4 separate regions of the Homo sapiens genome follow, and regions 1, 2 and 3 are each reported to be linked to region 4. Evidence: microRNA targets listed by miRTarBase, many of them from high-throughput screens and not tested one by one. Region 4 holds a microRNA gene; each other region holds the end of a gene's coding sequence.
The links. Region 4 holds the annotated microRNA hsa-miR-544b (ACCUGAGGUUGUGCAUUUCUAA, at 5,016-5,037, shown strand). A microRNA usually pairs through its seed, bases 2 to 8, with sites in the 3' UTR of a target mRNA and lowers its output. Matches are read on the target gene's strand: a 7mer-m8 pairs with bases 2 to 8, a 7mer-A1 pairs with bases 2 to 7 and ends in A, and an 8mer does both.

Region 1: miRTarBase lists SCML2 as a target of hsa-miR-544b. Seed matches in the 3' UTR shown: 7mer-m8 at 4,308-4,314 and 7mer-m8 at 4,712-4,718.
Region 2: the mRNA of TTLL1 is a reported target of hsa-miR-544b. The part of its 3' UTR that is shown has no 7-base or 8-base seed match.
Region 3: miRTarBase lists ABRACL as a target of hsa-miR-544b. Seed matches in the 3' UTR shown: 7mer-A1 at 1,041-1,047.

The regions. Positions count from the first base shown.
Region 1 is chrX:18,235,975-18,244,101 of GRCh38, reverse strand. It overlaps SCML2 (Scm polycomb group protein like 2), which reads left to right. Exons shown (of 15, transcript NM_006089.3): 14 at 1,512-1,663; 15 at 2,723-4,789. The coding sequence ends at 2,851. Among named protein-coding and RNA genes, the nearest start is that of BEND2, 19 kb to the right of the region's middle.
Region 2 is chr22:43,032,336-43,040,375 of GRCh38, reverse strand. TTLL1 (TTL family tubulin polyglutamylase complex subunit L1) reads left to right here. Exons shown (of 11, transcript NM_012263.5): 11 at 471-860. The coding sequence ends at 600. It overlaps TTLL1-AS1 (TTLL1 antisense RNA 1), which reads right to left and starts at 1,791. Exons shown (of 3, transcript NR_125362.1): 1 at 112-1,791. RefSeq lists an enhancer at 5,828-6,329.
Region 3 is chr6:139,042,069-139,047,068 of GRCh38, forward strand. ABRACL (ABRA C-terminal like) reads left to right here. Exons shown (of 3, transcript NM_021243.3): 3 at 651-1,234. The coding sequence ends at 835. Among named protein-coding and RNA genes, the nearest start is that of ABRACL, 16 kb to the left of the region's middle.
Region 4 is chr3:124,727,471-124,735,597 of GRCh38, forward strand. It overlaps MIR544B (microRNA 544b), which reads left to right and starts at 4,969; the gene lies at 4,969-5,046. It overlaps UMPS (uridine monophosphate synthetase), which reads left to right and starts at 2,982. Exons shown (of 6, transcript NM_000373.4): 1 at 2,982-3,157; 2 at 7,623-7,776. The coding sequence starts at 3,002. It also overlaps the pseudogene RPS26P22. RefSeq lists enhancers at 2,640-3,239, 2,652-3,061.

The sequences.
Region 1 (8,127 bases), not on the chromosome of region 4:
TTCACATCATCGTTGTGATGTTGGAAAGAAATAAAATTCAGAGCTACACACAAAAAATTAACCACTATAAGTTCTTTTATTTTCTGTTTTTCTTTATCCTTCCCCTAGGTAAATATACTTAAAATGCTTCTAAAATGGCCATAGTCCAGAGGATAGGAAAGAAAGGGTACTCCTTTGGCTAATTCACACACAAAAAAACATCAAATTTGTGTTGACAGTCCTTGGTTAGCAAAACAAATCTTCCTAGCTAAGTACAAAATTCACTTCAGTTATCCACACTAACTTTAGGGAGTTAAGGGCTCTGGTTGAGTAAATGAATACTTGTCAGGACACAGATTTTATCACAACTTAGTAAAGAGCACAGCTAAGACCATTTGAGGTATGAGCACTTAAATTGTTTCATGTCTCAGTTATGTATTTTTTTAATGTATAAACCTTCAACCAAAATATCTATTACTATGCAATTAAACATGATAAAGGAGTTAAATTAAATGTTAAAGTTATTTCTGACCTAGCTTAGCAGAAAATAATCTTGTCTTCTTCAAAATTCAGATAAGCATTTAAGCCATGAGAGACAGGAATCTAAAGAGTAAAGTGATGCTAAAAATATTCTTATTGGATACATCAGAGAGATTTGGTAAAAGGACTAATTTGTTTATCAAAAATAATGGGATTATTGAAATTCTTTGATTAAAGTGAACACATTTAAGCAATTAGAAAACTAAATTTAGCCAGGTATGGTGGCTCATGCCTGTAATTCCAGCACTTTGGGGGCCTGAGGTGGGCAGATTGCTTGAGTCCAGGAGTTTGAGACCAGCCTGGGCAACATGGATAAATCCTGTCTCTACAAAAAATATAAAGATTAGCTGCAAGTGGTGGCATGTGTCAGTAGTCCCAGCTACTTGGGAGGCAAGGTGGGAGGATCACTTGAGCCTGGGAGGTCAGCGCTGCAGTGAGCCATGATTGTGCCACTGCACTCCAGCCTGGGTAACAGAGCGAGACCCTGTCTCAAAAAAACCAAAACAACAACAACAACAACAAAACAAAACAAAAACTAACTGTAAATTTGGGGAATTTCCATCGGATTTAGCTAGTAAAATATACCTAGTCTAGACAGATAGAGAGAGATTGAAATTCCTTGAAAGACTTAAAGTAAGAGAGAAGTCATAGGTTAGATTAGATTAACCTAATTTTACCCGAGTAACAGATCTTTTGCTGTATTTGTCTGTGGCCAAAGAGGCTTGGATTGCTTAGTCTGTTTTGTGATCTTTGAAGCTTTAAGGTAACGTCTGAACCTGCTTTTGTTGTTTGGGGGAGGTCAGATGGGATGCTCTTATGTAGCCATCCTCACATCATTTTTGTATAAGCTTTCACAGTTGGAGTCTTGAGACCTTGTTGGGGAACTTAACAAAAGGTTCCAGGAATGAGACCATTATTCCCTACCTAACATCTCTTCTTTCAGGATAATGATCAGGTCAAGTATGATTTGTCTTTTTTCCCCCCCATTGAAGCTCCAAGTTATATAGCTGTACCTGATCCCAGTGTCCTGAAACAAGGCTTCTCTAAGGACCCTTCAACCTGGTCTGTGGATGAAGTGATACAGTTTATGAAACATACAGATCCTCAGATATCAGGCCCCCTCGCCGACCTCTTCAGGCAACATGTAATGTATCTTTTGATCCGGTTTTCCTGCCGTAATGCCTTTGAATGACCTCTGTGCAGGCCCTTCATTTGGATGCTGTGTGGATGGTGGGGGAACCCTATCAACTGATTTTTCCATATGTGAGAGAGGTTATTTTTCCCAAGATTAGTTCCTTAAATGGTAGATTAATGGTCTGTTCTTTAAGTGAGTATCCAGGTGCCTAAAATACAAACTGCTTCAACTTCTCAAGATACGATGATTCAGCATTGCAACTCTCAGGTGTACCTTCCCTTTGTGATGACAGATACAAGGATCCTCCCCGACCTGCTCCCAGCTCAGTGCCAGAACCATGAGTAGGAGGGGTTGACCACAAGCTATTACAGGGTGGCCTTCCTCCAGTGAATCCAGCAACTTTATAAGATTAAGTACATCCTTTTAAACAGGAACTCACAAATACCAAATAATATGCTTCCATGACATAAATTGATTAAGGTAATAAAGAATTTTAGGAGGATGCCTTGTGACTATTAAGTAATATTTTCAGTGTTTTCTAACAAATCAAATGAGTGATCTATTATCTGAGGTACCCTTTTCACTATCGCAAGAAAATCAGTAGTTTTAGCATCTAACCAGCTTCAGACAACTAACTGATTAGCCTTCAACATAATGACAACACTGTATAGCACATTTACAGTTTGCATTGATATTGACATATTCCTGGCCCTTCTCAGAAAGTTATTGATCATCTGAAATTCATTTCTACCATTCATAATTTTTGATCTTTTGTCATAGATATATTTAGTATTTTATTTAACACACAGTATTTAAAGTCAGATTGTTTGATACTTGGGACATTTTTTGAAGATACAAGATTAAATTTTCTTAAAGTTTGAACTAAATTCATAAATTATCAAATGATGCTTCACTGTATAAATTATATTTTTAATAGTTTTCAGGAAATAAAGCATATTCAGAGAATATATATCCGGAGTATACAGCTGCTGTATTTTACATGTTCTTATGTATAAATAATTTGATATGAAAGCATTATTAATGATTATGATTTCCTTCTCTCTGTAGGAAATTGATGGGAAGGCTCTGTTCCTACTCAAGAGTGATGTGATGATGAAGTATATGGGGCTGAAGCTGGGGCCAGCATTAAAGCTGTGTTACTACATTGAAAAGCTTAAAGAAGGAAAATACAGTTAAAAAAATGTGTAAGTTTAGATTGGACATAATTCTCAGGTGTACTGTTAACATTTTAATTTAAAAGTATTTCTCTTAGCAGTTTTTGTTTTGTAGACAGTTCCCATAAAAATATTTTATCAGAATTGCAGAACTGTAGTAACAGTTCAGTCAACTTTGTTTTTTTCCTGGAGTCACCAACCAGCTTTGGGAGACACAGCCGCCACTCCCCCAGTCTACTTCTTTAAAAAGCATTTAACAGGTTAGTATTGGCATATTCAAATTGGCAGTTCTTTATGTCTTTTTAAATTTTCATTGTACAGTTTACAAATATACTTAATGTAGTTAACAGAGAAAAACCTTTGATTTTGGTTAACCTTTATATCTAGAACCAAAACAGCTAAATCCCAAAGGGGAAAATATCAGGGATTGACAACTTCTATAATTAAATCCATGAGAATTTTTCCTCACTAGAGAATTTAAAGGTGCACCTGTAGATATCATCTTTTCTCAGATATTTTGTGTGATACTCTGTGGTGTTCTGTTCATGTTCTATCAGTATATCTAGAAAGGGAATAGCCATATAAATTATTTTCCTTTTATTATTTCTCTGTATGTTGTATTTGATCATATTTAAAGGAAAAAAGCAAGCTTATAAGCTTTCATGAAGTGTTCTTACCAGTTTTTGATAAATTTTTTAAATTATAGGATAGAATTGTCATTTTATGCAGGAGATATTTATACTACGAGGGTTGTTTGGATGGAGTCAGATTAAATTTTTTCAGTGAAATTCCTATTATTTTAAAACTTTCCATATTTTCACTACGCTTGGACATTTAACTAGGCATTCTTTTCTTACATCTCTATATGAAGATACCTGTGTCCAAAATTTTTGAAGATATATATTGTATGTGTTTATTCTTCATATGGTACTTTACCATATTTATATATTGTTTTATACCTGTAGGTTTACACACAAGTAAATCTTTTTTTTCTTGAATTTAATCTGGCACTTTGCACTGCCACAGAGGTGACGATGAACTATGTATATAGTTAGATGTTTTGATTTCGTAAAAAATATATGTCCATCGTTTGCTATCACCAGTACCTCTCAGCTTACTCTTCAGGGGATATGAAACAATCTGTAGATTGGTTTCCATACAGGGAAGTTCTCTGTCCTATGCAATGTTTCTAATTAATTTGCTTAGTTCTGAGCCATTTATTCTGCTACACTTTGAAAGATATATTAGTTCTGACTTATTGTTTGGGGCTTTATTTTATTTTTATTTTTTTGAGATGGAGTTTCACTCTTGTTGCCCAGGCTGGAGTGCAATAGCTCGATCTCGGCTCACTGCAACCTCGCCTCCCTGGTTCAAGCAATTCTCCTGCCTCAGCGATTACAGGAATGCACCACCACGCCCAGCTAATTTTGTAGAGATGGGGTTTCTCCATGTTGGTCAGGCTGGTCTCAAACTCCTGACCTCAGGTGATCCGCCCACCTCGGCCTTGCAAAATGCTGGGATTACAGGCATGAGCCACCATGCCCAGCCATGTTTGGGGCTTTATTTTATAAGTTAGAACTTTGAAGAGGAAATGGTGCTATATGTTTATTGTTATTACTTTGTGTAACTTTGATGTAATGTTTATAAGCTATGAGAATCAGTTATAAAAGTATTAGCCATTTGTTGTAAATGCCAATAAAATATTCACCAGGGGCAAGAATGTACATTTTCTTTTTAGAAAACCAAATGTACTTTAGACATGAATGCAACTATTTAAAGAATAGCTTCATTTATGTTATTCCTTACATGTCATAAGATTCTTACTTAAACTTGGTCTTCTTTCAAGTTGTTTGTATGAAGATGCTGTACCCACTTGAACAGTCCTCAGGTGTTTACATAAATACTATGTTTTACAGTTTTCATATTTTAAAATATTAATAAAGTTAATCGCAACGATTCATTCAAAGCCTCAGATGTGATTTTATTTATCATTAACTGCATTACATTAAAGTGTCTATTTGTTGGAACTGAAACAGAGCCACTCTAGTAAGCTTATGGCTTTCCATGTCCAAATACTTGAGTTTTAAAACCTGCCCAGATTCTACTGCTAAACAGATGCCTAAGAGCCAAGGGCTGATTTCTTACAGGGGTCTTCAATGAGACCCCAGGGGGGCTGTAAGAAGTTCAGTCGATGAGCTGTATCTGTACTCAGAGCCTTTGTTATTTATGATATCATCAGTGATGCGAGAGTGCTAGAAAATGCCCGTGCCCCGAGATATCTCATCCCATCTGAGCCTGTACGCCTGGCTGGCAACTCCAGCTGCTCTTTTACCACTGGGGGCCAGAGGCCGCCTCCTGGATGCACCTGCTCTTGGCCCTCTGCCTTCAGATGGCCCAGCTGCCCCGGTGGGATGCCCTTGGAGGACTGGGGTTACAGTTGCATAGCCTCACTTATCCAACCCCTACCCCCACCCCAGGAGTTGCGGCTCCACCCGAGGAACCCAGAAACCCTCACTACTCTTGCTCCCCAGCAGCGTGTCCTGTGATTCACTGGAGACAATGGGGCCCTGACCGAGGCTCCGGGGGTGATGCTCAGCGGCTGGAATGGGGGTGTCGATTTGAGTGATCTGAGACTTGAGTGATTCGGGGCCCCCTTTTTTCTCCTATCTGGCTTGTAGACTTTTAGTCTATAGACTATCATGCCATATTACCCTTCCTGTGAATTTTCCAGACTTGAAATGATCTTCCTCTAGCTTTGCCTCTCATTCCATCCTTTGATGCTTTGTAGCCTGCAGAATTCTGCATCTTGAGCTCTAAGACCTTCCAGGCACACCTAGCATTTGCTTTGGTCTTTCGTCTGTGTGATTTCTTATTGTTGAAATGTCTTACAGTAAATGTTCTAGAGTGGGATTTCCTGAACTTTTAAACCAAGGCCTCCCTCTGTAGGCATAGAAACACCATGCCCTTCTGTAATATTCAAAAGTAAAAAGTAAATACTGTGAGTAGTGGCAGTGTAATTGGGAGGAAAAGCACTGCTTTTTCAAGCTGCAGAAGGGATTGTCCTCGCAGTTGGCTGAGTACATGAAGTAGGTTAAAATTTCTGGGGCTATAGCTGGATGCTGGGGCTTGCTCACAAAGTCTCCTGAGGCTGATCCAGGCAATGTGGGAGAGCTTTAGGTATGAGAGGATGTGCAAACGAGAGCCCACCGTTGGAATACGTGGCGGACAGTCTTTCCTCTCTTCTGTTTCCTCTCTTCTGTTTGCCCTATTTTGTCAGCAGGTTGATGCCACTAAACCTTAAGAACGACACTCCATAGTTAGCACGTGCTCAAATTGAGCTTGGCCACTCCCCCTGCTCTAACAGAGGCAACTCTAGTGTTATGGGATCACCTTTCTGCCTTTAGGGATACTATCAGCATTGAGGGGAGATCTTTAAGAAAGAAGGGACCTAGCTCCTCCCCTCGAGCTGCCTAGAACATAACAGACAAACCAGCGTTCATGAAAAGGAGAACATCAGGGCACTTATGACAGAGCATATGAGTCAGTGCCAAGTGCCCATAAGTGACGTGTCCTTATGTATCAGTAGTGGTGTGTCCTGTTCTCCTGCCATAGAACTGAAGCACTTAAGCACATGCATTTGTGGAAATAATTCCTCAGGGACAACGGGGCGGCCAGGGCAGGGTTTTGGCCTTGCCAAGCCCTGTTCCTCCTTTGGCCTCACTCTTCCACCTGGCTTTGGCTAGCCTTGGAGGCCCAAGTCCACTAATGTCAGGGGCGAGGTGGGTGCACATATTCCACGGGGGCAGAAATCAGTCCATTGGGAGCAGGACACATATCTTACAACTTCCTTTTATATTCATGTAAGACGAAAAAGATTAAGCTTCTCTGCAGTTAATGTACGGAGTCACTGATGTGTTCCAAAGGGCTGAACATTGTTGGTACTTGCCACCATCCCAGCCCTTCTTGGTTCCTCCCTGTCCTTAGAGGCATAAAGCCTGGACGCGACACTTGCCACACTCCTTTGCCAGTAGACCTGGATTCTTAGATTCTGCCCCAAGAGACCCTGTGCCCTGATTTGGGGAGGAGGGAGGTGAGGAGAAGCTGCTTCCTTCTGGTGGCTGCACACGACAGGCTTTCGAGCATCAGCAGGAGGCAGATGTGGGGTTTGCCAGCAGCCTCTGGATATCACCTTGAGACTCACCCACTTCAGTCGTGCAGGCAGCTGAGACCACTGGGGGCAGGGGAGCTTCCCTGTGACTCTTGCAGTCCTAGGTTTCTAGAAACTTCCTCCCTCACCTTAGCCCCTGCCTTCCAGGAGCCATATAAGCTTCTGATTCTGTATTAAACCACTTCCATTCTGAAGATTCAGAATGGCTCATATGTCCCTGACCAGACCTGGACTTGTCTACCTTCTTCAGCGTATCTGTCCTGTAGAGGTGGCCCACCGTTCAGAAAGAAGAGTAAAACTCCCACAGAAAGTGGCCTTTATATTATCTAGTTTAAATGAACTAGTATATTTCATCAAATCTAAGACCCCGTTGATTGTAAGATGCATCGTTTACCAAATAGTGAAGGAAAATGCTACCTATTAAATCACTCACCATTGATTATAATATGCAAACTGGGCTGGGCGTGGTGGCTCACGCCTGTAATCCCAGCACTTTGGGAGGCCGAGGCGAGCGGGTCACTTGAGGTCAGGGGTTCTAGGCCAGCCTAGCCAACATGGTGAAACCCCGTCTCTACTAAAAATACAAAAATTAGCCGGGTGTGGTGGCACGCGCCTGTAGTTCAGCTACTCTGAAGGCTGAGGCAGGAGAATCGCTTGAACCCGGGAGGCAGAGGCTGCAGTGAGCTGAGATTGTGCCACTGCACTCCAGCCTAGGTGACAGAGTGAGACTCCGCCTCAAAAAAAAAAAATGCAAACTGATTTCATAGATGTTAATGTGAAAAGATGGGTGGCTTAAGACATAAAATGTTAGCTCTTAAAAGCTGAACAGGTGGTTTTATTTATTATTTATTTTTTTATTTTTTTTTTTGAGGCAGAGTCTCTCTCTCTTGCCCAGGCTGGAGTGCAGTTGTGCGATCTCAGCTCACTGCAACCTCCGCCTCTTGGATTCAAGCGATTCTCCTGCCTCAGCCTCCTGAGTAGCTAGGATTACAAGTGCGCACCACCACACCTGGCTAATTTTTCTATTTTTAGTGGAGATGGGGATTCACCACGTGAATTTGTCTTTAGTGGATTTGGGGATTCATTACCATAGCTCAAAAATATGGTGAGATGCAACTGATACATTTCCT
Region 2 (8,040 bases), not on the chromosome of region 4:
CTCCACTGACCAGTGCTCATGTACCACTCCCATCTGGAATGGAGTTAGTCCCCCCAGCCTGCAGGTGCCTTGTGTGAAGCGTTTCCAGCCAGGCAGTCTCACCTCACTTACCCTGGGCTGGTTCTGTGTCACCTCATGCATGTTGCCTTTGGAGTCATTGCCATATTTGACCTGGTGACCTGTATAAAATGTCAGCTTCCGAGGGGAGACCACTGTCCACAATAACAACAAGGTTGTACACATAGGCAGGCTGGCCTTGGGGAGCATTTGCTGGGCTGCGAGAGCCACCTGGCAGGCAGGTGGGCTGGAGCCAGGTGGGAGGTGGGCGGGAGCCAGCAGGAGTCGCGAGGGTGGGGCCCCCTCAGGCCGCTTCTCTGGGTGATGTCATATTTGCCACACAGCAGCCTGGTGGCCCTGCCTGTTGCCTTTGAAAGAGAGCCTGCCGTGATCCTGGCTGTTTCTGTCTCCAGGTATGATGAAGAATTGGCCCAGGGTGACGGGGCTGACCGGGAGCTGAGAAGCCGTCAGGGTCAGTCTCTGGGGCCCAGAGCAGGCCGATCGAGAGACTCGGGGAGAGCGGTCCTCACCACCTGGAAGTGAGTCCCACCTGGACCTTATCAAAACTACTCACTCCACCTGGGCCCCTGCTGAAGCCCTATTTTGAAATTTCCCTTTTGTAGAGCTTTTTTCCTTTCCTAAGCCCTGTAAATAAACGAAGGCACTTCTTTGGAAGGTTATGGAGTCTGTTTGACTAGTGCTAAAGGAAACAATTCATGCGGATGTATAAAACTCGCTCTTTTTTTTTTAATTTTTAACCTAAGCAGAATTTTCATATTAAAAACTCACTTTTTTGACAGAAAGTAACAGCTTCAAGCATGTAATTTGATGTGTCACAAGGTTTAAACATTAAAAAAACTTTACACTAAATTAAAAACAAAACAAATCTTATAGACTCGTCCTGCCACGAGAGAGGAATGTATTTAACTGACGGCTCTTTTAGTTGCGTTTCTTTTTACTTGACTGCGATTTTTTTTTTTTTTCCCGAGACAGAGTTTTGCTCTGTCGCCCAGGCTGGAGTGCACTGGCACAATCTTGGCTCACTGCAACCTCTGCCTCCTGGGTAGTATTTCTCCCACCTCAGGCTCCCAAGTAGCTGGGATTACAGGCGTGTGCCACCACACCTGGCTAATTTTTGTATTTTTAGTAGAGATGGGGTTTTGACCATGTTGGGCAGGCTGGTCTCAAACTCCTGACCTCAGGTGATCTGCCCACCTCGGCCTCCCAAAATGCTGGGATTACAGAGGTGAGCCACCACGCCCAGCTTACTTGACTGTGATTTTGAAGAAAACAGGCAACTAGAAATATTCCTCGGTAATTTATCTTTACAAAGGCCTTTGTCTAGGTGCTCCCAGGAAGACCTGTTTTCTTTTCTTTTCTTCTCTTTTCTTTTTTTTTTTCTTTTCAGACAGGATCTCGCCCTGTCACCCAGGCTGGAGTGCCGTGGTGCCATTGTGGCTCAACTTCCTGGGCTCAAGTGATCCGCTCACCTCAGCCTCCCGAGTAACTGGGACCACACAGGCACACACCACCACCCCCAGCTACTTTTTAAAGTTTTTTTTGTAGAGACAGAGTTTCACCATGTTGGCCAGGCTGTTCTCGAACTCCTGGGCTCAAGCGATACTCCTGCCTAAGCTTCCCAAAGTGTTGGGATTACAGGCATGAGCCACCACGCCTGGCTTCAAAAAGACCTGTTTCTACCACTTCGGTTTTGTGGATGAGTCTGTTGTAAATGGAACTAGATGAGCACAGACAGGTCCGGCTGTGTGCCTTTTATGACGTCAGCAGCTGGGTTTGCTACAGGGAAGCGCCGTGGGCAGCCAGGAGCTGTGGGAGGAGCGATGGCTGCGGGACAGGCTGCGCGAGCGTGGTTGTTCCCATGCAGTCTCCCGGTAGCCCGGTGACTTACAGGAGTGTATGGAGAGGACCTGAGTTGGTGGGTAGATGGACAGATGCATTTGAGTAATAACTCATGAGTTACAGTGCTGTTCTTAGGAAGGGTCTTTTTTTTTTTTTTTTTTTTTGAGGTGGAGTTTCACTCTTGACACCCAGGCTGGAGTGCAATGGCACAATCTAGGCTCACTGCAACCTCCACCTCCTGGGTTCAGGCGATTCTCATGGCTCAGCCTCCCAAAGAGGTGGGCTTACAGGCGCCTGCCACCACGCCCAACTAATTTTTGTATTTTTAGTGGAGACGGGGTTTCACCATGTTGGCCAGGCTGGTCTCGAACTCCTGACCTCAGGTGATCCTCCCGCCTCCGCCTCCCAAAGTGCTGAAATTACAGGCGTGAGCCACTGCGCCCGGCCAGGAAGGGCCTTTTACTCATGGTCGTATTAACACGTATTTGCTGAAGTTTCACTCGCTGTCTTGAGTTTATCTTTAAAGCTTGCCACCTGTTTTTGTTGCAATGCTAGTAACAGGAGTTTGTTCTCCCAAATGGCACCAAGGGTATGTCCTTCAGATAAGGGTCTTAACTGACTTGCCCAGGCTCTCTCAGTGCCCATGCATGGACGTGTGTCAAGTGTACATGCCATATTGTGTGTGTGTATATGAGTACATATATTTAATGATGTTTCACTGCCAATTAGGGAAAAATAGGTCTTTTCAACACAAATGGTACTTGGCTGGACTCCAAATAAACTACAATTGGTGGGCTTTTCAGCCATTCCTTCTTCGTGATCTTATTGGTATGTGTGTTGTGTGTGTTCCCTGGTGTTTAAGTTTTGTTTTGTTTTGTTTTGTTTTTGAGACAGAGTCTCGCTCTGTCGCCCAGCAGGCTGGAGTGCAGTGGCGCAACCTCAGCTCACTGCAATCTCTGCCTCCCGGGTTGAAGTGATTCTCGTGCCTCAGCTTCCCAAGTAGCTGGGATTACAGGTGTACACCACCATGCCCGGCTAATTTTTGTATTTTTAGTAGAGATGGGGCTTCACCATGTTGGCTAGGCTGGTCTCAAACTCCCAGCCTTAGGTGATCCGCCTGCCTCAGCCTTCCAGAGTGCTGGGAATACAGGTGTGAGCCACTGCGCCCAGCCGTGGGGTTTAGTTTTAATGTGTTTGCTGTTGATGGCGGGTGTGGGATGGAGATCCCCGAGTCAGACTTGGCCTTGTGGCCTGGCTCTGCTGTTTATTAGCTGTTTCCCAAGCCTGTCCCTGGGGTCGTTGCACCTTTGTTTCCCACTGTATAAAATGGGGAGTTCTGTGGCCGGGCGCAGTGGCTCATGCCTGTAATCCCAGCACTTTGGGAGGCCGAGGAGGGTGGATCATCTGAGGTCAGGAGTTCGAGACCAGCTTGGCCAACATGGTGAAACCTCATCTCTACTAAAAATACAAAAATTAGCCTGGAGGCTGAGGCAGGAGAATCGCTTGAACCCAGGAGGCGGAGGTTGCGGAGAGCCGAGATGGCGCCATTACACTCAAGCCTGGGCAATAAGAGCGAAACTCCGTCTCAAAAAAAAAAAGGGGGGGAGTTCTGTTTGCCTCAGAAACAACCAGTACCACCGCACAGGGACCCTGCCCGCACGCCTTGCTGGCTCTGGCGAGCCCTCTTACCTCCCAGGAGGGGGTGTCCTCTGCACAGCTGGCGGCTCCACCTCGGCTCCTACACGCAGAAGTGAAAGACACCCCGTTAACTGTTCCCAGCTCTTCCACCGGTTTTTACAACCCGGTTCTCAGTTACATTGTGTTGTTTTTGCCTCCCTCTGGGAGAAGGGTGGAGTCCCTGGTTGGGAACGTTGGCCTCTGAGGCTCCGGGGCCACGCAGTCCTAATGGAAGAGTCACACCAAGTGGTTAGTTTGCTGGTGACCCAGTTGCTAGGTGAGAGTGAGGCTCTGCTAAGTGGATTTATGTCATATAGTGACTGTCTCATTAATGATTTAGTGATGTCATGTTCTGGGCAGATGTTTCCTCTGAGCACTTCCAGGACACGGGTGGGAAGGGTGCGGTGTTGGCAGCAGGCCTCGGGAGGCTGTCGGGCCAGGAACAGCCCCATTCAGCGCTAGGCTGGGGCTAAGCAGTGAGCCCTGCTGGGAGCTGTCCGGGAGCCGTTGCTGTTTTCTTGTCAGCCCCCACACACTTGATGGGGTGGGTCCCAGGCCAGAGGGTTGCATCCTGTGGTCGTTTTCACCAAGTTTGATAGGCTTGGTTTTCCCAATATAAACCCATCCTCGACTGGGCACAGTAGCTCACGCCTGTAGTCCCAGCACTTTGGGAGGCTGAGGTGGGTGGATCACCTGAGGTCAGGAGTTTGAGACCAGCCTGGCCAACAAGGTGAAACCCCGTCTCTACTAAAAATACAAACATTAGCTGGGCTTGGTGGTTCATGCCTGTAATCCCACCTACTTGGGAGGCTGAGGCGGAAGAATCACTTGAACCCAGGAGGCGGAGGTTGCAGTGAGCCGAGATCGCACCATTGCACTCCAGCCTGGACAACTGAGCAAGACTCCATCTCAAACAAAAGAAAACCACCATCCTTCACCTCCTTTGCACACGGGCTGCTCCCCGGGTATTAGTGAGGGCCTGGTGACAACCTTCTCACTGTCTCCCTTCTCCTCCTCCGCCTCCCACCTGGGCTGCCATGGAGACCCCATCAGTCTGGACCCGCATCTGGTTGCGCTCCACCAGCTGCTAGGACTTTCCTCACAGGGGGCCATTTCCCCTCCACACAGTGGTTCTTCAGGGTGCTCCATAAAGCCTCCTATGCTTGCCACCCATTGGCCTGTTGGCTCACACTGCCACACACCATGTCCACCAGTGCCAAACACACGCAGCTCCTCTCTGAGTGCCCCCAGGGGCCAGCGCACTCTCCACCCTCCCCTCTGGAGCCATTCCCAGCTGTGCTGCGGCCGCCTGGCCCTCTCCCCGCAGCAGCCCTGCAGCCCCTGTGGTCTGGGGAGGCCAAGGTCTCCTGCAGGGCCCTGCCTGCTGGTAACGGCACAGCGACTGGGGCTGCTCAGCGACTGGGCACCCTCAGGCTGTTTGTGTGTCCCCTAATGTGAACTGTGCCCCAGTGGAGGGCCCTGGGGCACGTGAGGACCCTTTGTGAGCAGGTGGGAGCACATCCACTTTTGATTCCAGTCTCTCATTGTGGAAGACGAGGGATTTTGATCTTCACTGATTTGCCCCAGCCTGAACCATATTAGATCTCACATCCTGTGAACAATGGCGGCCTCCTGCTTTTGTCCTGAGAAGCATTCGGAGCGCTCCTCCAGTGACAGATGCAAACCCACCTTGCTTATGCTCCTGCCCGGCCGCTGGCGCTCTGTCAGCAGGAACAAGTCTAGGGGCCCATGGCGTTCCCTCAGGCCCAGGCCCACCCTGCCTGCCACTTGGCCAACATTCCCCCACAATTCCAGTTTAACTCACCTAATCTCCCCTCCCCTTCCCACCCCTCCCCTCCCCCCTCCCCTCCCCCCTTTCTTTCCTTTTTTTTTTTTTTTTTTTTTTTTTTTAGACAGAGTCTCACTCTGTTGCCCAGGCTAGTGGCACAATCTCGGCTCACAGCAACCTTTGCCTCCTGGGTTCAAGTCATTCTCATGCCTCAACCTCCCAAGAAGTAGCTGGGATTACAGGCATGCGCCACCATGCCCGGCTAGTTTTGTTTTGTTTTGTTTTGAGACGGAGTCTCACTCTGACACCCAGGCTGGAGTGCAGTGGCGTGAGCTCAGCTCACTGCAAGCTCCGCCTCCCAGGTTCATGCCATTCTCCTGCCTCAGCCTCCCGAGTAGCTGGGACTACAGGCGCCCGCCACCACGCCCGGCTAATTTTTTGTATTTTTAGTAGAGACGGGGTTTCTCTACTAAACATGTCTACATCCTGACGTGTTAGCCAGGATAGTCTTGATCTCCTGACCTTGTGATCCGCCTGCCTCAGCCTCCCAAAGTGCCGGGATTACAGGCATCAGCCACCGTGCCTGGCCTAGTTTTGTATTTTTAGTAGAGATGGGGTTTCACTATGTTGGCCAGGCTGGTCTTGAACTCCAGACCTCAAGTGATCCGCCAGCCTCCATCTCCCAAAGTGCTGGGATTACAGGCATGAGCTACCGTGCCCGGCTTCCAGCCAAATGTTTTTGAGTGATGGCATCAGTGTTCTTAGAGATGTGCCTCTCTAAGGATGACGGAGCTGGTGAGAGGCTAGAGGGAGATCTGGCAGTGCAGGCCACAATGTGAACTCAGGCGGTGCCCTAGGGACGGGAGGAGGGGAGTTGTGCACAGGGAGCCTGCACACCGGGTGGAAGGGGATCTGCAGAGACGAGCAGTTCTCAGTGGCCCAGTAGGGGGCGTGTGTTAAACGGGGTTTGAGCCCTGAATGTAGAAGGAGGTAAACTGCAAAGCTGCAGTAACAAACGTGCTTTTCAGAAGCTGTTCAGAAAGGCCACGCTACTCATGGTTATGAATAATGCTGCCTCGAGGCCATGGCTGAATAGCAAGAACGTCACCAGGCAGCTTCCCTTCCTGCATCTTGTACTGGTTAAAATGAAATCAGAACTTTTTGTTTTTTTGGGACGGAGTCTTGCTCTGTTGCCCAGGCTGGAGTGCAATGGCGTAATCTTGGTTCACTGCAACCTCCACCTCCCAGGTTCCAGTGATTCTCCTGTCTCAGCTGGGATTACAGGCGCCCGCCACCATGCCCAGCTAATTTTTGTATTTTTAGTAGAGATGGGGTTTCACCATCTTGGCCAGGCTGGTCTTGAACTCCTGACCTGGTGGTCCACCCACCTTGGCCTCCCAAAGTGCTGGGATTACAGGCGTGAGCCACCACGTCCAGCCTGATAGCTCTTTTTTTTTTGAGACAGGGTCTGGCTCTGTCATCCAGGCTGGAGCGCAGTGGTATGATCACAGCTCACTGCAGCCTTGACCTCCTGGGGTGATCCTCCCACCTCAGCCTCCCAAGCAGCTGGGATTACAGGTGCATGCTACCACACCCTGCTGATTTTTATTTATTTTATTTTATTTTGTTTTTTGAAACAGAGTCTCATTCTGTCACCCAGGCTGGAGTGCAGTGGTGTGGTCTCGGCTCACTGCAACTTCTGCCTTCTGGGTTCAGTCGATTCTCCCACCTCAGCCTCCTAAGTAGTTGAGATTACAGGCACATGCCACCACGTGCGGCTAACTTTTGTATTTTTAGTAGTGACAGGGTTTCACTATGTTGGCCAGGCTGGTCTCAAACTCCTGACCTTGTGCTCCACCTGCCTCGGCCTCCCAGGGTGCTGGGATTACAGGCATGAGCCACCGTGCCTGGCTGCTAATTTTTTATTTTTTTGTAGCGACAGGGTCTCACCATGTTACCCAGGCTGGTCTTGAACTCTTGGCCTCAAGCAATTGGCCTGCCTTGGCCTCCCAAAGTGCTGGGATTACAAACGTGAACCACTGCTCCCCTGAAGTAGTATCTCATTATGGTTTTGATTTGCATTTTTTCTGACAGCTGATGATGTTGAGTATCTTTTCATGTGCTTATTGGCCATTCGTATGCCTTCCTGGGAGAAACTGTTTTGATTTATTTATTTATTTTTTTCTTGAGACAGGGTCTTACTCCATCACCTAGGCTGGAGTGCAGTGGCACAATCACAGCTCCCTACAGCCTCAACCTCCCAGGCTCAGGCGATCCTCCCACTTCAGCCTCCTGAGCAGCTAGAACTACAGGCATGTGCCACCATGCCCAGCTAATTTTTTGTATTTTTTGTAGAGATGGGGTTTTGCCATGTTGCCCAGGCTGGTTTCAAACTCCTGGGCACGGCTGGGTGCGGTGGCTCACGCCTGTAATCCCAGCACTTTGGGAGGCCGAGGCAGATGGATCATGAAATCAAGACCATCCTGGCTAACACGGTGAAACCCCGTCTCTACTAAAAATACAAAAAATTAGCCGGGTATGGTGGCAGGCGCCTGTAGTCCCAGCTACTTGGGAGGCTGAGGCAGGAGAATGGTGTGAACCCGGGAGGCAGAGCTTGCAGTGAGCTGAGATCACGCCACTGCACTCCAGCCTGGGTG
Region 3 (5,000 bases), not on the chromosome of region 4:
GGAGGTGTCTCCCAGATTACCCTTGCCTCCAGGTTTTCAGGTTATTGATGTTTAACAACAGATCTACTTTTGGTCTATCTTAACTTTCAATGTATATGTTAAAAACTGGCCTCCAAATAAGATAATCTAGGGCTCATATGAAATACAGATTTCTGAGTCTACTACTGGGAATTCAGATTCAGTGGTCCTGATGAATGGCTGATGATTATACATTTTTAAGGAGCCCCCCACTCCCACCCTGGGGATTCCGAGTGTTCAGAACACACTTAGAGAAACACTGCTCTTGATCCTGGTTTTCTCTTTCATTTGTAGTGTTTATTGATTCAAAAACTCACGTAACAATTAACAAATAAAAATAGAGGGAGAGAAATTCATCTGCAGTATTAGCACTGTAGCACATTCAACTTTTGTAAATGTTGGTTCTCAGTCTTTGTCTGGATAATCCTAAGGCCAAGAGGCATATAGCATGTATTTATTCCATTACTTTTTGGATCAGGGAAGAGAATATGTTGAATTTATGACTGTTAAGTGTTAAATTGCAACCTTGGATAGCCCATAGTTATAAATTTATTAAAGATTTTGTAAGTCTTCCATACTTGAGGGTATGAAACAGACTTTGCATTTGCTAACAATGTATTTTCTCAAACTAGATGCTGATGGAAAGTTAAGCGTGAAATTTGGGGTCCTCTTCCGTGATGATAAATGTGCCAACCTCTTTGAAGCATTGGTAGGAACTCTTAAAGCTGCAAAACGAAGGAAGATTGTAACATATCCAGGAGAGCTGCTTCTGCAAGGTGTTCATGATGATGTTGACATTATATTACTGCAAGATTAATGTGGTTTACATATCTTTATGTACTGCCATTTTTTGTTTCTGGTAAACTGGAATATAAAGTGAAAGAACAAACATTTGAACATACTTAATGTATTTTTATAGAACTTTGTAAACGAAAGGAGATTCATGTTTTAGAAGTCTGTCCTTTTTTATATCTTGAAAGAAAATCTATGTATGATGCTATAAAATAAATCCTATTATTTTTCTCAGGAATCTGGTTAGGAATTGCAGGCAATGAGATTTTTTGCGGGGCAGGGATGGGAATGTTTGTTCATAAATAATTAGACATTTTCTATAGATATTTGACATTCTGCGAAAGCAACAAGCAAACTGAAGACCAACTCCTATGAGAAATATTATGATGTTTATGTAATAAAGACATGTAACTGTCTTAAATTTGCCTTATTTTGTCATTTAAGTATTTGTGTGCTTCTCAGAATTGAGTTTTTGCATCAAGATTAGGTAACTGCAGTAAAAGTTGTGTTACTCTGAAACAAATTCTCTCAAAACTACCAAATTTAAGTAATAGGAAGGGCTGGGCACGGTGGCTCACACCTGTAATTCCAGCACTTTGGGAGGCTGAGGCGGGCAGATCACCTGAGGTTGGGGGTTCGAGACAGCCTGGCCAACATGGTGAAACCCCATCTCTACTAAAAATACAAAAATTAGCTGGGCGTGATGGCACACATCTGTAATACCCACTACTCTGGAGGCTGAGGCACAAGGATCACCTGAACCCAGGAGGTGGAGGTTGCAGTGAGCTGAGGTCGCCCCACGGCACTCCAGCCTGGGCGACAGAGCGAGACTTGATCTCACAAAAAAAAAAAAAAAAAAAAAAGAGGAATGGTTAGTGTTATGGTTAGACCCTATACAAAATATTTATTTTGAGGCTGATTGTGTGCTTATTGCTGAGTTTGGGGACATGCCAAAAAATCTAACCTAAAAACTTCACATTCTAGTTGGGTTACACCCATCTGAAACAATATGGGATAATCTCTGATTGCATGTTACAGAATTTAACATGACTTGGAATGCCAAGGAGAATAAAAGCAGTGAAAGCCACAATGGCCAGGGGAGATATCCTGGAGGGGGCAGAACTTGCATGGAGGAATGATTGCAGCTGATTATCTCGAGGGAAAAAAAGATGGGATGATGAGGGTGATGACTGAAGGAAAGGCAGAAGGATACAAATTGGCAAGGCATGATCTCGTGAAAGGCAGGATATGAGGCCGACCAGAATGCTGGGGAGAGAGGTCGTTCATTGGACAATGAAAGTGGGACCTGGGAAATCAGGAAGAGGAATATGAACAGAAACTGGAGCCAGGACATTCCATGATGACAGTGATGTTTAGTGCAGATGGCCCTCACACTAGTGATTCAGGTGGATTGTAGAGAGTGAAGAAGTGGTCAGACAAGCCAGCTGAAATGTTGCTCAGGAATCTCATGGGGGTGACCATAACGCAAAGGCGGGGGAAGAATGAACTCCAAGCATGTTTTTAAAATCAAAGCCCTCTCATCTGTACTCTTTCTGCTGTGACAGGACCCCAATTCAAAGATCAAACATTAGAATTCACTGGCACTTGACGGTTATTGCTAACATTTATTGAGCATTTACAATGCCAATTCTCATATAACCCTGTGAGGTAGGTACTAATAGTACCTTCCATTTTATAGATGAGGTAAGTGAGGCACAGAAAGGTTAAGTAGCTTGTCCAAGTTCACCTAGGTAGAAAGTTGTAGAGTCTGAATTTTGAAATTGGACTCATCTAACTGGCAATTCCAGGGATGGCGTAGACTTTGAGCGTGGCTGGCTCCAGGGACTAAACAATGTCAAAACTCTCTGCCTTTCCATATTGGCTCTCATGCATTCTCTGGTTTGATCTCTTTCTACTGTAAATAGACTCCCTGCAGATAGCTGGGAAGATGCTGCTAGTAGTTGCAAATTCACTTATTTCTAGATTAGCAATTCTAGTAGAGGGAGCATTTATTATAATATCTAATTATGAATTCCAAGAAGGAAATTCTGATTGCTTCCACTGCAGTATAAACCTACCCCTTTGACCAATGGCATTTACCAAGGAGATGAGACACCATGAACTGACAGGCCACAGGTAACATGCTGGTTTCTCAGTGGGGATGGGGTGAGTTATTGTGCTTCACAACCTCATTTCAAATAAGAAAAGGGTAGTTTTCCAAAGGAAACGATGTTGGCTACATGGGAACGACATGGGTTCACTGTAGAAATAAGAGACCTTTTGAAGAATGAATCTTTACAATTATGTGGCAAAAAATGAAAAGGTGAATGAGAAGCGATGGTCAAAAGCTACCATCATATATGCCCTCAGTGACTGAGAGAATGATGAACTAATTAACAGAGGTGGGAAAATTGGATGGAGAAGGAGGGCTAGTTTCAGGGAGTTTGATCTGGGCATGGTAAACTTGAGGTACTTAAAGTAGAAATGTGTAGTAAGTAGGTGAGGATTTTCTTCTAGAACCCAGGCTAAGTAAAGGCATAGGAGTGTAGACAGAGACTTGGGAATTACGGTTCATGGTTGATTTTCACCTTAATTTTGATTTGTATAGATAATTCTACTTCTGACTCTCATTAGCATTAAATTGAAATTTTAATTATCAGGCACTTAGAAAACACAAAAGACAAACAATCTACAGGCTTTGTAAAAGTCTAGGCTGAGAAATTGAAGCAACCTTTAGATGGAAGCAATGTAGGAAGCCCAAAGACATCTAACAGAATTTTATGAGGCAGCTGACCTTGTGTAATCAAAAAGAATCTTAAAAAATCTATAGAAGTTGAAATTGTTAATCTGTCATGATTTGTTTAATGTCTTCTTGGCGAGCATCAAATGAAGTTTAGTTTTAACCCTTGATGATTTAACATTTAATGAACATCTTCCAGAAAAGGTATATTCATGTGATTGTTCAGTTATTGTAAGAAAACTGACAGAATATCATTTCTATCTACCATTGATATCCACGATACAGTTTTATGTATTTTCCTTTAGATTCAAGATGGTTAGTTCTTTGTATCAACTTCACATATACATAGTTGTTTTATTGGATCATGGTCTTAAAATTTTAAATCATAGATTTGATTTTTTTGAGCTATATTCACAGTGAAAATACTCTTTCTTGGCCATAAGCTGCATTGCAGTTAATTATCTCAGTAATAAGTGCCATTGGCTACAGTTGGCTGGGAATTAGAGATTATCAACAGTTGTATACCAACATTCCTTTATTCACGCAATGAAAATATGGAACCTCTACTTTGTTCAAGTCACTGTTCTAGGCGTTAGGAAGGACTAAAGCAAAGCAAAATAAGAATAAACAAAATTCTATTCTAGTCCTCAAAAAACCCCAATTAGTACTATATATTATTAATAAACAGTATAAAAGAAGCTTTGGGTAAATGATATAGAGATATGGGTGCAAAGATAAAGAATCATTCCTGAGGGGACCTGGAGGGCTTTCATGGATAAAGTGACATTTCCTGGGGCTTTAAAGCAATAGAATAATAGGGTAGGACTTTAGGGGTAGAGTCACTACTGCATACAAAGTCAGAGAAAGGCAAGTAATTTGAGGTACAGAAGGAAAGTAGTGTAACAACAGTTGAGGCCAGAAAGGAAGGTTGGGAACATTATTTTGAACCTTTAGGACAGAAGAAACAATTCTAAGTGTATGTCTTAATAATGGTGAGTTACAAAGAACTGTAAAAAAACTTACATAAAATATTTGATAAGTACCACTAATTATAAAGAAACTTTAATTTTTAAGTTCTGTAACATTGCTATTTTGTGTATTGAGATTAAATAAGACAATCTATAAGTATAGCTTATCATCTTCATAGTGAATGACTGTTCATTGAAAACTGATTAAAGTTACCACGTTTGCAGTCTTGAATTTTCTTAAGTTTCTGTCATAGAAAGTCCAAGCATACCCTAGTGTCCTGGAGTTACAATTTAAAAATAAGTTACTGGCTGAGTACAGTGGTTCACACTTATCCCAGCACTTTGGGAGGCCAAGGCAGGAGGATCACTTGAGTGCTGGATTTCCAGACCATAACAAGACCCCATCTCTACAAAAAAATTTAAAAAATTAACTGGTCGTGGTGGCGTGACCCACTACAGTCTCCACTACTTGGGAGGCTTTC
Region 4 (8,127 bases):
GAGTCACAGAATCTAGGTGATTGTTCAAGGTCACTGAGACATTCACTGGAAGATAACTTTTTTTTTTTTTTTGGCACAGGGTCTCACTCTGTCACTCAGGCTGGACTGCAGTGGCATGATCACAGTTCACTGTGGCCTCAACCTCCCAGGCTCAAGTGATATTCCTGCCTCAGCCTCCCCAGTAGCTGGGACCACAAGTGTGTGCCATGATGTCTGGCTAATTTTTTTTATTTTTTGAAGAGACAGAGTCTCATCATGTTACCCAGGCTGGTCTCAAACTCCTGGGCTTCCCATCTCTGCCTCCCAAAGTGCTGGGATTGCAGGCATGAGCCACTGACCTGGCCCTAGAACATAACTTAAAATAAATGTGTATGTGTGTGTTTCAGTGTCTCTGTGTGTGTATAGTGTAGGTCAAACAATAATAAATAATTAAATAACAGTACCTCAGCCTATATTTTTTTGAAGGGGAGTGGTTCAGAGGAATCACCAATATAGTTATGGAATATTAGCAAAAGCCCTAATACAAATGATAATCAGAACCCCACAAGCTCAGTCTAAAATAGATATCAGAGTAGAATACAGAAGGGATTCAGTAAGCAATATAGAGCTAGGTCCATGAAAAGGCTCAGATTGAACTACTGCATGAAATTTTACATTCATGGAAACTCTTTAGGGTAAATACCTAAAATAGTAAGACTAAATATTGGTTAAAGCCAAGATCCTTTACCCAGCCTAAGTAAATGAAATGGAGAACACAAAATGAATTGGTACAATCTATGTTCCTCTGCTTTTTTTTTTGTTGTTGTTGTTGTTTGTTTGTTTGTTTGTTGTTGTTGAGACAGAGTCTCTGTTGCCCAGGCTGGAGTGTAGTGGCATGATCTTGGCTCACTGCAACCTCCACCCCCTCGGGGTTCAAGCAATTCTCCTGCCTCAGCCTCCCAAGTAGCTGGGACTATAGGCATGTGCTACTATGCCCGGCTAATTTTTGTATTTTTTGGTAGAGACGGGGTTTCATCATGTTGACTGGGCTGGTCTCGAACTCTCAACCTCAGGTGATCCACTTCCCTCGGCCTCCCAAAGTACTGGGATTACAGGCATGAGCCACCACACTCAGCTCTACCAACTTTTTATCAAGTGTTTTTGAGTGAACTATCTTATTGAATCTTCATAGTGATTTTTGGAGAAAGTTAATATTATTATCTTCATTCTTTTTTTTTTTTTTTGAGCGCAGTCTGGCTCTTTCGCCCAGCCTGGAGTGCAGTGATGCGATCTCGGCTCACTGCAAGCTTTGCCTCCCGGGTTCACACCATTCTCCTGCCTCAGCCTCCCGAGTAGCTGGGACTACAGGCGCCTACCACCATGCCCAGCTAATTTTTTTGTATTTTTAGTAGAGACGGGGTTTCACCATGTTAGCCAAGATGGTCTTGATCTCCTGACCTCGTGATCCGCCCGCCTCAGCCTCCCAAAGTGCTGGGATTACAGGCGTGAGCCACCGCGCCCGGCTTCTTCATTCTATTTTTGAGAAAATTGAGACTCATATAGCTCAAAATGCATTGCCAAAGATCACTCAGCCAGTAAGTAGAATGGGACTAAAATCCAAATGTTTTGGTTTGAAACTTCATGTTCTTTGTAGTGCACTATACAGCTATGCCTTATCTGTTCCTCTTTTTTAAAAAAGTATTTGTTATAGTTGACACATGATATCGTACACATTTATTGGGTACATAGTGCTATTTCAATACACACAATGTACAGTGATCAAATCAGAGTAATTCATATATTCCTCACCTTAAATATTTATCCTTTCTTTGTGTTGGGAACATTCAAACGCCCCTCTTCTAGCTATTTTAAAATATATAGTAAATTATTATTGACTACAGTCACCCTACAGTGCAATGGAACACTAGGACTTATTCCTCCTATCTAGCTGTAATTTGTGTCCTTTAACCACCCCCTACCCTTCCCAGCCTCTAGTGATTACTATTTTATTCTCTAGCTCCATGAGATCAACTTTTTTAGCTTCTGCATATGAGCGAGAACATTTGGTATTTATCTTCCTGTTCCTGGCTTGTTTCACTAACATAATGTCCTTCAGGTTCATCCACCTTGCTGCAAATGACAAGGTTTCATTCTTTATGTGAATTTAAGGGTTATTTTCCTTAAGCTAGAATAAAGTATTGCCTTATATACACAATGGAGAAGGGATTTATTTGTACAGATTATTTATTGATTATTTCTTTAAGGGATTTATTTGTAAAGACCAAATATGTTTGGATTTTCAGATTGTCTAGCAATATTATCCTCCTGGATAACCCTGATACCAATCAATTAACCGTCTTCTAACTCTCCTCCTTCCCTCCCTTACCTTTTCTACACCTATTACCTAAGCATTTGAGGTACGCCAAAGGAAATAAAAAAGTACTCCTCCAGGAAGCAGAGTACAGACAAAAGAGGTAATGAATACTGTAATGATCTAAGTGCTATATATTCCTATGTGCAAACTGCTATGGAACTGTCACGTACTAGATGCTATGAAGTTAATAAAAGAATTGAGTAAAGGTCCCTGTCTTTGATAACTTATATTCTATTTGGAGAAACATGGGGGGTAAATCTTGGCTAATAACTAGCAAATATAACATGTTAGGCCAAGGAGTAGAGATAATTAAGAGAACTAGTCGAGAAGGCATTGGCTATTAAAAAATGGACAGGATTTATGCAAACTCTCATGAAAGGTGGGACTTCATGATCCTACAGTCAATCTAGCTGTTCTGGGCTTTGAACCCCAGCGACCCCATCCAGAAGAAACCAGGAGAAGCACAAACTGGCGCTAGGTTCGCTACCATCCACCTGACCCTTGAGCCCGGGGAAACCCACGGGTGCAGCAAGCCGGGAAAGCTGCAGACGAGGCAGGCGGAAGAGGCGGGACTTCGCGGGTGACGTCATCGGGGCGCCGGAGGCCCGGGGCGCCTGGGAATTTGAAGCAAACAGGCAGCGCGCGACAATGGCGGTCGCTCGTGCAGCTTTGGGGCCATTGGTGACGGGTCTGTACGACGTGCAGGCTTTCAAGTTTGGGGACTTCGTGCTGAAGAGCGGGCTTTCCTCCCCCATCTACATCGATCTGCGGGGCATCGTGTCTCGACCGCGTCTTCTGAGTCAGGTGCTGGCCTAGGAAGGGAAAGGACAGGGCTTGGTGGCGGGAAGGAGGACAAGGAAATGGAAGAGGGTGACAGGAGTTGGGCCGTGAGTGAGAGCAAAAGAGCCAAGCAGGCAGACCGACCCTACTCTTGGTTTGGGGAGTAAGCATGAGAAGCACAGAGGCCAGGGGTTGGGCTCCTCGAGAGTCGTCTGTTCTTTCACCCACACGCTTAGACACGTGTTTTGCAAAAGTCGGGAAACCCAGTTTGGAACGCTTTCTGGCACTGAAGCACACTTGAATGAATTCTGTATATTTAACTCTTTAAGAAAATTAGACTTGCGGCCGGGCGTGGTGCCTCATGAGAGTAATACCAGCACTTTGGGATGCCTAAGTGGGCAGATCACCTGAGCCCCAGGAGTTCGAGACCAGCCTGGGCAACATGACGAGACCCCGTCTCTACAAAAAATTAGCTGGGTGTGGTGGCGCACGCCTGGGACGCTGAGGTGGGAGGATCACCTGAGCCTGGGAGGTCAAGGCTGCAATGAGCTGTCATTGCGCCACTGCACTCCAGCCTGGGCGACAAGTGAGACCCTGCCCTCAAAAAACAAACAAATAGACCGGGAAAACGTGGGTAGGCAGAGAATTCAGTAGCTGGGAAATTACTGGTGAGAAAAGGAAAATAGAACAACCAGAACTCTGTGATGTATACAAAATTTATCAGAGCCCAGAGAGACTTCAACCATACTCCCCTATGCAGCCCCGGGACAATTATTTAAAGGAATTTTGTCCCTGACTAGCTGCCTCTCCCATTATCTTAATGTACCTGGAATGTGTGATACAAAGAACAATGTATAGCTAATCAATCGCTTGTGTTATTATTTTATTTATTTATTTTTTAGATGGGATCTCTCTTACGTCACCCAGGCTGGAGTGCAGCTCTGTGATCATAGCTCACTGCAGCCTGGAACTCCTGGGCTTAAGAGATCTTCTTGCCTCGGGTGAGCACAGGGGCTCATGCCTGTAGTCCCAACTTTGGGAGGCTTTCTTTGGGAGGCTGAGGCGGGTGGATCACTTAAGGTCTGGAGTTCGAGACCAGCCTGGCCAACATGGTGAAACCCTGTCTCTACTGAAAATGCAAAAATTAGCTGGGCATGGTGGTGCACACCTGTAATCCCAGCTACTCAGGAGGCTGAGGCAGAAGAATCAGGAGGTTGCAGTTAGCCGAAATTGAGCCACTGCACTCCAGCCTGGGCAACAGAGGGAGACTGTCTCAGAAAAAAAAAAAAAAAAGAGATCCTCTTACCTCAACCTCTGAGTAGCTGGAACTACAGGCATGTGCCATCATGCCCACCAAATTAAAAATTTTTTTTTTTTGTAGAGAGGAGGTCTCACCATACTGCCCAGGCTCGTCTCAAACTCCTGGCCTCAAAAGATCCTCTTGCCTTGGCGGCTTCCCAAGTAGCTGGGACTACAAATGCCTGGTGCCACCCCCGGGCTACCTCCTGTTATTTCAATGCAAATTCTTGGTGAATATAGGAACTGCCCCTTCTTTTGCTTTAAAAATCCACTTGTAACTACTGTAATCGAAGCCTATAGTCAGGGCAACTACTCATATTAATTTTGCCTCAGCCTCTTCCTGTTAGGTCCACACTTGGAAGGGCTGTTTGGAAAGGGGAGTTGAATTTTGCACTGTGCGGCCAGAAGCAATAATTAAGACTAGAAGGTGGACATATTGGGAAAGCAGGTTTTTAGTCAATATAAGGAAAATTTTTGTACAAATTAGAGGTTTCTAATACAGTGCTTCTCAACTTTGAGTATATATGAATTACCTGGGAATTTTGTTAAAATGCAGAATCCATTTCTGTAGCTCTGAGACTAGACCTGAGGTTGTGCATTTCTAACAAAGTGCCAGCTGAAACTGCAGACCACACTGAGTAGAGGGCCGTAAATATGCTTTCCAATACAGTTTGCTACTAGCCACGTGTTACTATTGAGCATTATGAATTTTTAAGTTTAAATAGTCATATATGGCCAGTGGCTATCATATTGGACTGCAAAGATAGAGAACATTTCCATCATTGCAGAAAGTTCTATCAAGAAGACATATAAGTTTCCTCAGCCCACTTAAGGGTTTATGTTCACTAGGGACCACTTTGTGTGGTTATTGTAAAAAGTATTGAAGATAGGTTGGACTATTAAGGTTGCGGTACTTTGGACCATTAACTTCTCACCATCCAGAATCTTGCTATGGTGTATCTTAGCAATGTGGAGAATTACTAAGGATTTTCTAGGGAAAAATTGATTTATTTTAATAAGCCAGCTGATAAATGACAGAAAAAGTTTTTTGATAACTAGATCATGGTGTGTGTGTGTGTGTGTGTGTGTGTGTGTATTTTGGTGATTAACTGGGGAGGAGTTCAAAACATGGAGAGACTTGGGTATAACAAAACTTCTTTTCACATCTTATGCGAATAGAATTTCTCAGTATTTACACCCCAAAAAGCAATATAATTTATGCTAAACTCTAACTTCCCTTAATAAGTGATAATAAGTGATATTTGACTATAGTACTATATACACATTAGTGTACATAAAGTAATTGGAGAGGAAAGGTAGCATTAACTCACTAAAAATGCATTTTCCAAATCTGTTTTTATCTCTCTGTCAAAATTTGCAAATCATGTTTGAATTAATCATATGCTTGTTATAATTTAATGATATACAGAAGAATTCTCTTCTTTAAAAAGTACAATTTCCATTTTCTTTTCCTCAAGAGAATAGTTTCTCTTCAGTCCTTAAGGATTCAGCTCCTTACATGGGCTTTGGTGAGGGTCATGAGGCAGCACCCACAGGTTTAAATCAGATTGGGGTATTTGGTCCTTGTGGGATTCACAAGATGGATTACTGACTGCCTTGCTGTGAATGGCACAACTCACACCTTAATGTAGCTTCGCATACAGCTTGGGAAGAACATAGGAGGCAAAGTTGCTCACTGCAGTAATGTCCCTGACTGCTGCGGCCTCTACTATGTTTTGCACGACGAGCTTCTTAATGGTCTTTTCCTTGGGCATGCATCGGACATAGTATGTGCCACTACTGGCCACAGCCCTTTTTGGCACGATCATTGTTCCTTTCTTTTCTTTGTCATCTTGGAAGTAAGGACCTGAGAGAGCTACAGAAGAATTCTTGACATCTAGAGACTTATGGTCATGGGAAATTTTTTTTTAATTACCATTTTAAATTTCAGTTTACATACATATAGACAAGTATGACAGAGGGATCAGTAAAAGCTTTTCAAGTATAATCATATATTACTTTAGAATAAAATTCTGTGGACACAGTGGAGTGAAAATATGAGTTGGAAAAAGATGTAAAAAATTTTAAACTTTTCATAGTCCAGCAATTTCACGTTTTGTTTTTTTAAATGGAGATGGTGGATATCCAGTCACTAGCATTTGTATTCCAAGTTTATTCCTTAAAAAGAGTGATAAAACAGTTCTAAGATAATATGTTAATATTTTTAGTACTAGAAATTACATTCTCTGCAACTTAAAATAGTCATAGTTTTTTTTTGTTTGTTTTTTTACTCTTTAGAAGTACTGGTGTAAACCTATGATCTAGTTCACAAAGCAACTCAGTGACTGTTTGCTTTTTTAAAAAAAAAATGAGGTGGTCTTGGGTGGGAATATGTATCCTAACATTAAAATATGATGATTTATGTGGAAAAGGAGATTATAAAATAGCAATTCACACAATAGTCTGTATTTATGAAACTTCCTAATTGAAGGCTTCTTTCAGGATATATAACTAAAAGATGATAGGTTTAGATACTCAGCCTAATGGGTTACTGAGGAAACCAGGAAGTCGGGATCGTCCTTAGTCTTTGGGGTCAACATCATGAGCTTCCCCAGCACATCTCAGGTTGCCTTCAGAACAGATTCTGAGTCTGGTTGAATAGATTCATTCTTGTGTTTTTAGATTTATATTTGTGTACTGGGTTTATGGAGAGGGTAATAAAAAGGCATTTGTTTTTTTTTCTCCAATCAAGTTTGAGACTTACCCCCACTAGTTTATTACTGTCTTTTCTGTTACGTTGTTACATGTTTATACACTATTTAAAATAGTTACAATAGGCTGGGCGCAGTGGCTCACGCCTGTAATCCCAGCACTTTGGGAGGCCGAGGCAGGTGGATCACAAGGCCAAGAGTTTGAGGCCAGCCTGACCAACATAGTGAAACCCCATCTCTACTAAAAATACAAAAAAATTAGCTGGGTGTAGTGGTGCGCGCCTGTAATCTCAGCTCCTTGGGAGGCTGGGGCAGGAGAATCACTTGAACCTGGGAGGCAGAGGTTGCAGTGAGCCGAGATCGCACCACTGCATTCCAGCCTGGGCAACAGGGCGAGACTCCATCTCAAAAAATAAAAAATATAAAATAAAATAAAATAGTTACAATAAAACATTGTTTATGTGTTCATTTTCTTACAGGTTGCAGATATTTTATTCCAAACTGCCCAAAATGCAGGCATCAGTTTTGACACCGTGTGTGGAGTGCCTTATACAGCTTTGCCATTGGCTACAGTTATCTGTTCAACCAATCAAATTCCAATGCTTATTAGAAGGAAAGAAACAAAGGATTATGGTAAAATAAAAGTAACATAAAGCATGAAGTTAATTAATCTGTAACATCATACTCTTAGAATTTTTCCGCTTCTGTGCACTAATGTTTTACCAGTCATCTTGAGTTCTTTAAGTTGTTACTGCTTGTAGAATTTATAATTGTTACTATAAGTCACCTTCCTTTTTTTAGACTTGGGGTGAAATGCTTTGTATTGATTAGGAAATGAAAAGTGCTTTTTTTGGTACTGTATCTATGAAACTCCAACATTTTTTTTTTTTACCAGCCCTTCCCTCATCAGCAAAATGTTGTAACAGCACATACTTTCCCAGTATGTTTGTATTTAAACTTCATGAAAAGTAATCCATGGATAAA